2 linked regions of the Homo sapiens genome follow. The protein of the gene in region 1 interacts with the protein of each later gene in a pairwise test. Each region holds a gene or a part of one and is shown in the gene's direction. Other genes may lie near its edges.

Region 1 (3,914 bases):
TAGCCAAAGTTAATGGCCTGAGTCATAGCAGAAGGGTGTCTGGGTCACCGTCTGTGTGTGGTGCCCATCTTGTTTTGCTTTTGCACACTCAGAATCCAGTGTGACTTTTTCGCCAGACCCATTTAAGTGTCTGTCTTCCTCTGCCTTGGTCTTTCTCAGCAGTGTCCCAGTGCCTGCTGTCTGGACTGCTGCATCTGTACCAGATGTGGGAGGGATGACAGTGAAGAAACACATACATACACACACACACTCTTTCTCTTTCCCCTTCATTCAAGTGTACACAGCTACCTCCCTCAGGTCTCCCAATGGTTAAGTGGGTTCTTAATGCAAGAAACTAGGACCATTGTGTACCTCACTTGGCAAAGCTAGGTTGGGACCTGCAGGGTTATTGGAGCAGAATCAGTATTGTTTGGGGTGGCCTGGGATTTGATATCTGAAGTGGGGAGCAGGGCTGTCCTTTGCTTTGGGGGAGTCTCATAAAGAAAAATGGAGACGAGAAGTAACGTTCATTGTGGCCAGTGTCTCTCCAGCATTACCATGGCAACAATCCCCACGGGTGTCACTATGGAAATCAGGCCTGGCACTTGAAGTTCAGCTTATACCAAGTGCTTTACTGAGGGTTGAACAGGTTGGTCATCTTTGGACCCCTGATCTTAAACCCCCAGCCCCAATTAGCTTCAGTCAGCACACATGATAGAAAAGTACAGAAAGGTGCTGGGATACACAAATGGAAGAGGAGACACCAGGGAGGCTCGGAGTGTGATTAAATTAAAAGAGAACAAAGAACCCTGGACTGTGGGACTCTGAAGAGAGGCCCTTCAGAGAAGGCTATAAGGAGCACTTAGACTGCTGGGGGTGGGAGAGAGATTGGATTTCGGCGACATTTCTAAGAGGAGGAGGGACTCTGTGACTATTTCTCATTAACAACTCACAGAGTCTTCGATTACCTGGAGGTAGAGAGGGTGGGTGGCAGAATTACATACTTCTGAAAATGGGATTGAGGTTGGAAAAAGGGAGTGATGAAAGGCTTTAGTTCTGTCTGGAAATACTTGGAAAAATGCCCAAATGTGAGGAGGGGGGATATGGAGTAGGGGAAGAAAAAGCCTTGATAAGGCTCTGACACAGTGTTGGCATTTCAGTTCTTGGATCACTTTGCAGTGTGGGTCTGGAATCAGATTGCTTGAATTTGAAACTGTGCTCTACCATTTCTCAGCCATGTGACTGTGGGGAAGCTACCTGACCTCTTTGAGCCTGTTTCGTCATCTATAAAGTGGTAATAATAATAGTATCTATGTCCTAGGATTACTGTGAACATTAAATGAGATAATGCATATAAACTGCTTTGTAACATGGCAGGCACACAGTAAACCCTCAATAAGAGTTAGATATTATCACTATTTTATATGCTATCTCCCCACAAGCTAGCTTTGACAAAATTGGGAAGTGGGTAACACTTTTCCTTTTTACTAATTGTTTCATGCAAACCTCCAGATCCCAAGTATCTTCTTGCTCCCTTCCTTGTCAATATCTATGTTTAGTCAACAAATATTTATGAAGAGCATCTGTCATAGTCCTCTATATGTTGCTATAAAGGAATACCCCAGGCTGGGTAATTTATAAAGAAAAGAGATATATTTGGCTAACAGTTCTGCAGGCTGTACAAGAAGCATGGCACCAGCATCTGCTCTGATGAGGGCCTCAGGAAGCTTCCAGTCATGGTGGGAGGCAAAGAGGGAGCAGGAATCACATGGCGAGAGAGGGAAAAAGAGGGAGAGCAAGAGGTGCCAAGCTCTTTTTAACAGCCAGCTCTCACATGAACTCATAAAGCGATAACTCACTCATTACCATGGGGAAGGCACCAAGCCACTCATCAGGGATTTACCTCCTTGAGCCAAGCACTTCCCACCATGCCCCACCTCCAACAATGGGGATCAAATGTCAACATGAGATTTGGAGGGGACAAACATCCAAACTACATCAGCATCCTATAGGCCAGGGACTGTGTTTGGTGTTGGGGATTTAAAGGGAATCCCTGCCTTCAAGAAAATCTGGATCAAGGTTGTGATCCATAGCCCATGGAGTGGCCTGCGCAGAGGCAGGGGAGAGGAACATCAGATATGGCTTTTGCTAACTATCTATATACTCCCCCAGATTCTGATAAGGAACCTCCCACAACATACTACAGTCTGATTCAGAGTATTGTGTGTTATGAGAGCTGTAAATAATGGTGGTGCTTCCCATGTCTATGGGCAGGAAAAGTGGAAGACCACTGGTCTAGTTATTTTCATGAAAAGATCACTTTTCTCTAGGCACATTGCCCATGGGTTAGCCCTGCTGTACAAGGAGCAGTAATGAAAAAAAAATCAGGCAAAATTAATTCATCCTGAGTATAATCAATAGAAAATTAAAAGAAATGTACAAAACTTAGCCGAGCATGGTGGTGGCTGCCTGTAGTCCCAGCTACTCAGGAGGCTGATGCAGGAGAATTGCTTGAACCTGGGAGGCGGAGGTTGCAGTGAGCCGAGATCTTGCCACTGCACTCCAGCCTGGGCAACAGAGCAAGACTCCGTCTCAAAAATAAATAAATAAATAAAAATTAAAAAAACAAATTGGCTGGGCACGGTGGCTCACGCCTATAATCTCAGCACTTTGGGAGACAGAGGCGGGTGGATAACAAGGTCAGGAGTTCGACACCAGCATGGCCAACATGGTGAAACCCTGTCTGTACTGAAAATATAAAAATTAGCCGGGCGTGGTGGTGGGCGCCTGTAATCCCAGCTACTCGGAAGGCTGAGGCAGGAGAATCGCTTGAACCTGGGAGGCGAAGGTTGCAGTGAGCCAAGATCATGCTGCTGCACTCCAGCCTGGGCGAAAGAGTGAAACTCTATCTCAAAAAAAAAAAAAAAAGAAAAAGAAAGAAAGAAAAAAAAGAAAAAACAAATTTACATTTTAAAAGGAATAAACAACTTAAAGACATAAAGAGCCAGGCTTGGAATTTTAGAGCCCAGCCAAGAATACAGAAGTAGGTAGCAGGCCTTCCCAGAACTCCTGAAATCATATCTCATGTCACATGGCTTTCCCTGCTCAGGAGATTACTAAATGCACCAATTTTTAGCTCTTGGGTATCTTTTTTTTTTTTCAGACGGAGTCTCGCTCTGTCACCCAGGCTGGAGTGCAGTGGCGCGATCTCGGCTCACTGGAAACTCCGCCTTCCGGGTTCACGCCATTCTTCTGCCTCAGCCTCCCAAGCAGCTGGGACTACAGGCGCCTGCCACCACGCCCGGCTAATTTTTTGTATTTTTAGTGGAGACGGGGTTTCACCGTGTTAGCCAGGATGGTCTCGATCTCCTGACCTCGTGATCCACCCGCCTCGGCCTCCCAAAGTGCTGGGATTACAGATGTGAGCCACCGCGCCCAGCCCACTCTTGGGTATCTTTTAGACTCAGATCTGAGAATCTCTTCCTTCTTCCCTCTCTGCTCTTTTCTTTCTTCCCAGCCTAGACTGATGTAAAGGGGTTCCTGATGAAAAGGGGCTATAATTGGCTTCAGCATTTGGAGAGCGCTCTCCATTTTAATGCGTCTGTGGAGCCTTCTAGATCCTGTAACTGGGAATGTTTTGAGGGAGTGTGTGTGGGGGCTGGGGTGGGGTGGTTGGTGTGTTGGTGCCCATGTGTTTGTGGGGGGAGGGGAGGGGCAAGATTGGCTTGAGAGTTACATTTAATCCCCTTTGGCTGGGTGCCTGGCTTCATGAAGCATGGATAGAGATTGTTGGTGGGAAAGAGATGAGAAAGCCAGTCTCATCTTTTCACATTTTTCTGCCTGTTTTATATTCTGGCTGCACTGGCAGTTGATTAAATGATGCCCACCCAGATTAAGGGTGGATCTGCCTTTCCCAGTCCACTGACTCATATGTT
Region 2 (3,914 bases), on another chromosome or scaffold:
TCCCAAAGTGCCGAGATTACAGGTGTGAGCTACTGTACCCAGCCTATTGCTCACAATTTTAACTGCCAGCATCCTGGGAAAACCTCAACAGGGACAAAATGAAAATGTTCCAGGAATGTTAAATGCAGGATGCTCTTAATATTCTACCTGTCATCTCAAGAAAAACAGTAGCATAGCTCTTACATAGTGTGGTGTGGAATGAAAACTCCTAGATTCATTAATACCTAACTTGATGCAAATTAAGGAGTTGTGGCTTGATTCCAGAGGAGGCTCTCATTAGGGTGGGACTGTCTTGTTTTTAAAACATGTCTTCCCGTAATAAATATGCTTTATTAGCTGACCTAGGATATGTGGCTATGAGCATACCTGTCCTTACCACATACCATGCAGCCTGCTGGTAAGGGTCCCAGCTATTCAAAATGCTTGTTGCTACAAATTGTATTGATTTTACAGTAACCTACCACATTTCAAAAAACTGCAGTCTGAGACAACCCAGGACCCTGGCTGGGTGTGGTGGTTGAGAGGAACAGGAAAAATAATTGCCCTAAAAGCTGGTTTTAGGGCTAATTAGGAGGTACAGGTTACCTGAGGGAAGGGATGATTAGGGAGAGAACCAAAGCAGTGAGGTGTGGAGCCTGCCACCATCTTAAGAAGTGAGTAGTGACACGTGGTGAGGAGAAAGACCCTTGCAGAACTTCTAGTCTTAGCAAACTAGGTTGAGAAATTCCTTTTCTTTTCTTTCTTTTTTTTTGAGGCAGAGTCTCACTGCGTTGCCCAGGCTGGAGTCCTGTGGCATGATTCTGACTCACTCCAACCTCCACCTCCCGGGTTCAAACAATTCTGTTGCCTCAGCCTCCTGAGTAGCTGGGATTACAGACGCCCACCACCATGCCTGGCTAATTTTTGTATTTTTAGTAGAGACGGGGTTTCACCTTGTTGGCCAGGCTGGTCTTGAACTGCTGACCTCAAGTGATCCACCCACCTCGGCCTCCCAAAGTGCTGGGATTACAGGTGTAAGCCACTGTGCCCAGCCAAAGTTCCTTTTCTTTTTGGAATCTGTTCCCTCCATTGCACCTGAAGGACTCTTGTAAAATGCCGTTCCAGGTCCTCCTCGTGGTCCTTCAGCTCAGTTCATGTCCCTGAGTGGCTTCACAGGGCCTCTGCACCAGGCCCCGAGTGTCTCTCTGGCCTCAGGCTCCTGCTGTCCTACATTTCTTTTGATCCCTTGCAGGGGACTCTGTGGGTCCTGGACCTTGTGTGGACTTTCATTTTCTTTTTTTCTTTTTTTTGAGACGGAGTCTGGCTCTGTCGCCAGGCTGGAGTGCAGTGGTACGATCTCGGCTCACTGCAATCTCTGTTTCCTGCTTCAAGTGATTCTCCTGCCTCAGCCTCCCCAGTAGTTGGGACTATAGGCGAGCACCACCACACCCAGCTAATTTTTGTATTTTTAGTGGAGACAGGGTTTCACCATGTTGGCCAGGATGGTCTCGATCTTCTGACCTTGTGATTTGTCCGCCTCAGCCTCCCAAAGTGCTGGGATTACAGGTGTGAGCCACCACACCCAGCCGTGTGGACTTTCTTATGTTTGGCATGTGCATCCGAAATGTCCCCTTGCCCAACTCTTCTGTAAGCCTGGTCCCCATCTAGGTATGATTCCTCCAGGAAGGGTTCCCTGCCACTCCTGCTCCCTCCCGGATTGTGGATTAGGTACCAAGCCTGAGTGCTTCCTTAGTACCTGCATGGTGTCATCTTTACCTGTCTGTCCACACAGCCAGACTAAGTTCTGAGAGGATCTGGCTGGCTTCTGCCCTGCACAGCACGTGTAGTAGACATCAAATATTTCTTAAGTGGATGATTCAAATCTGGGCTGCTAGTCAATTCTGACATCTCCCAAGTGTGGAGTTGAGTGGATGAGGCTGATGAGGAGGCTGTCTGTGAGGTGACATGGTGGCCTTTCTTTCTCTCTTGAAGGTGATTAGAATGACTGGTTTCATGAAGGGCCTCTACACAGACGCCGAGATGAAGTCTGATAATGTGAAGGTGGGTTTGAGTCGGGCTTCTCCTATTGACTCCTCGCCTTAACGGATGGGATTTTTTGTAGGCCTGGTAGTGTGGCTTGTGTCATTTCTCTGCTGCATGTGGTTGGAATACAAGGTCAGTGAATTCGTAAATTGATATATATACCCTTTCTCATTTCATTTTCTCATTGTGGCAACTGGATGTCATGCTAGTTTTATTCACTGAAAAATGGGATTAGTATTTCAAAGGTTAATGCTAGCCCATCAACTAAATTAAAGGCTTTAATGAATTGTTTTTGTTTTGTCAGTAAAAGGTCAGTATTTCTAGATTTGTTATATATCTAAAAACAGCTTTGTATGTAAACAGAAACTATCCTATGCCTGGTAAACATACAGAAGATAATGCACACTCTTCAAAGTATTGTAATATTTGTATTTTCAATGGAAATGTTTCAGGATAAAGATGCAAAAATTAGCTTCCTACAAAAGGCCATAGACGTGGTTGTAATGGTGTCGGGAGAGCCACTGTTGGCCAAACCAGCCCGAATCGTGGCGGGGCATGAGCCTGAAAGAACAAACGAGCTGCTCCAGATAATTGGAAAATGCTGTCTCAACAAGGTACTACTGCTGTCCTGGCATTTTGAACTTACTTAGTACTTGAGTAAAAAGTAGTCGGGGGTGAGGGACTCACATGTGCGGGCGGTTTAGGGAAGGAGTTTCAGTGGTGTCTGTCAAACACTGTGCTTTGAATCTGATCCCACCCCTTCTGGAGCCCCAGAGATACAGAAGGAGTAATTTAATACTGAATGATAAAACAAATAAGGGTATGTAATACGCAAGTTCTGCAAGCTTTCAGTAGAAAGTCGGGAACCCTGCAGGCACACTGTGCCTGGCTGGAGGCTGGAGGCTGCAGGCCCAGGCTTCCATGCCCTCTGGCTTTCTCCTTTCTGAGGCTCCCTTGAGGACAGGTGGCTGCTTCCAGCCAGGGCTGCAGTGGCTGCAGGAGCTGCTTTTCTTCTTCCCTGGGTCTTATGGGAGTCTCTGTTCTCTTCCTCCATCTCCAGCCTCTGGTGTCTGCTTGCCTGTTGCCCTTCCTCTCTCTCTTCCACCTTTTCTCTCTCTCTCGGTTGCTGTTTCAGTTGTACGGGGAGTAGATTTTTTCTTTCTTGAGCTTTTCACTGTGGGCTAGAAACTTGGGTGTCAAGGCCTCAGGCTTCTCTAGTTAGGTCCAGCCTGGGCCATGTTTGCCCAAATGTTGGAGAAGGTCTTTCCCCAGGGTCTTCCTTCTTTTGAGGGCCGAGTAGTGCCCTGTGGAGGAGCAGGTTGGACTTGTATTGAGAGTGTAATTAATACAGTTTTTCACATACCTAGTGGGTGGTTGGCTGGGGGCTAACCTTAAATGTGACCCAAATGGGAACAGGTAGGTTTCAGCCCCCTCAACAGCAGTGGGTAGTGGAGGTGCATAGTGGTATCAGGCCGACTCCTAGGAGGCCCCCCCAGTGCAGGTCCAGCATGCAAACTTAGAGACTTGGAAGCAGATCTTGCCAGTACACTGGCCTCTGTCCCTAGGCTCCCCAGCTCCCCTTCCCGGGTCCTTTATGTTTCTCATCTTTCTAAAAAGCACATCTGGCTCCTGTCTCCTCTGCTGAATCATCTCCGGCTTCCAGTAGCCTCGGGTCTGGGCCAGCTCCATGGCACAGCTTGTGAGGCTCCTAGAGACCTGCTGCTACTTCTCTCCCTTCAGATCCTTCTCTCGTTTCCCATATCTGAGCCCTCCATTCCAGTCGCCACGCACCCCTGCATTCGGCCCTGGCCGGCTGTCTCCCGTCGGCCTCTTGCCCTGGTGCCTGCTGGCTTCTTGGTACCTGAGCTGCCTTCCTCCTCCAGCCTCACCCA

Evidence for each region.
Region 2: the proteins of KIF5A (region 1) and TRAF3IP1 interact in a two-hybrid assay, tested with the Homo sapiens proteins (2 studies listed by IntAct).

The regions. Positions count from the first base shown.
Region 1 is NC_000012.12:57,553,018-57,556,931, forward strand, and holds part of KIF5A (kinesin heavy chain isoform 5A), read left to right. Parts: intron 1-3,914. UniProt on the Homo sapiens protein: Microtubule-dependent motor required for slow axonal transport of neurofilament proteins (NFH, NFM and NFL). Can induce formation of neurite-like membrane protrusions in non-neuronal cells in a ZFYVE27-dependent manner.
Region 2 is NC_000002.12:238,323,335-238,327,248, forward strand, and holds part of TRAF3IP1 (TRAF3-interacting protein 1), read left to right. Parts: intron 1-1,971; coding exon 1,972-2,040; intron 2,041-2,474; coding exon 2,475-2,636; intron 2,637-3,914.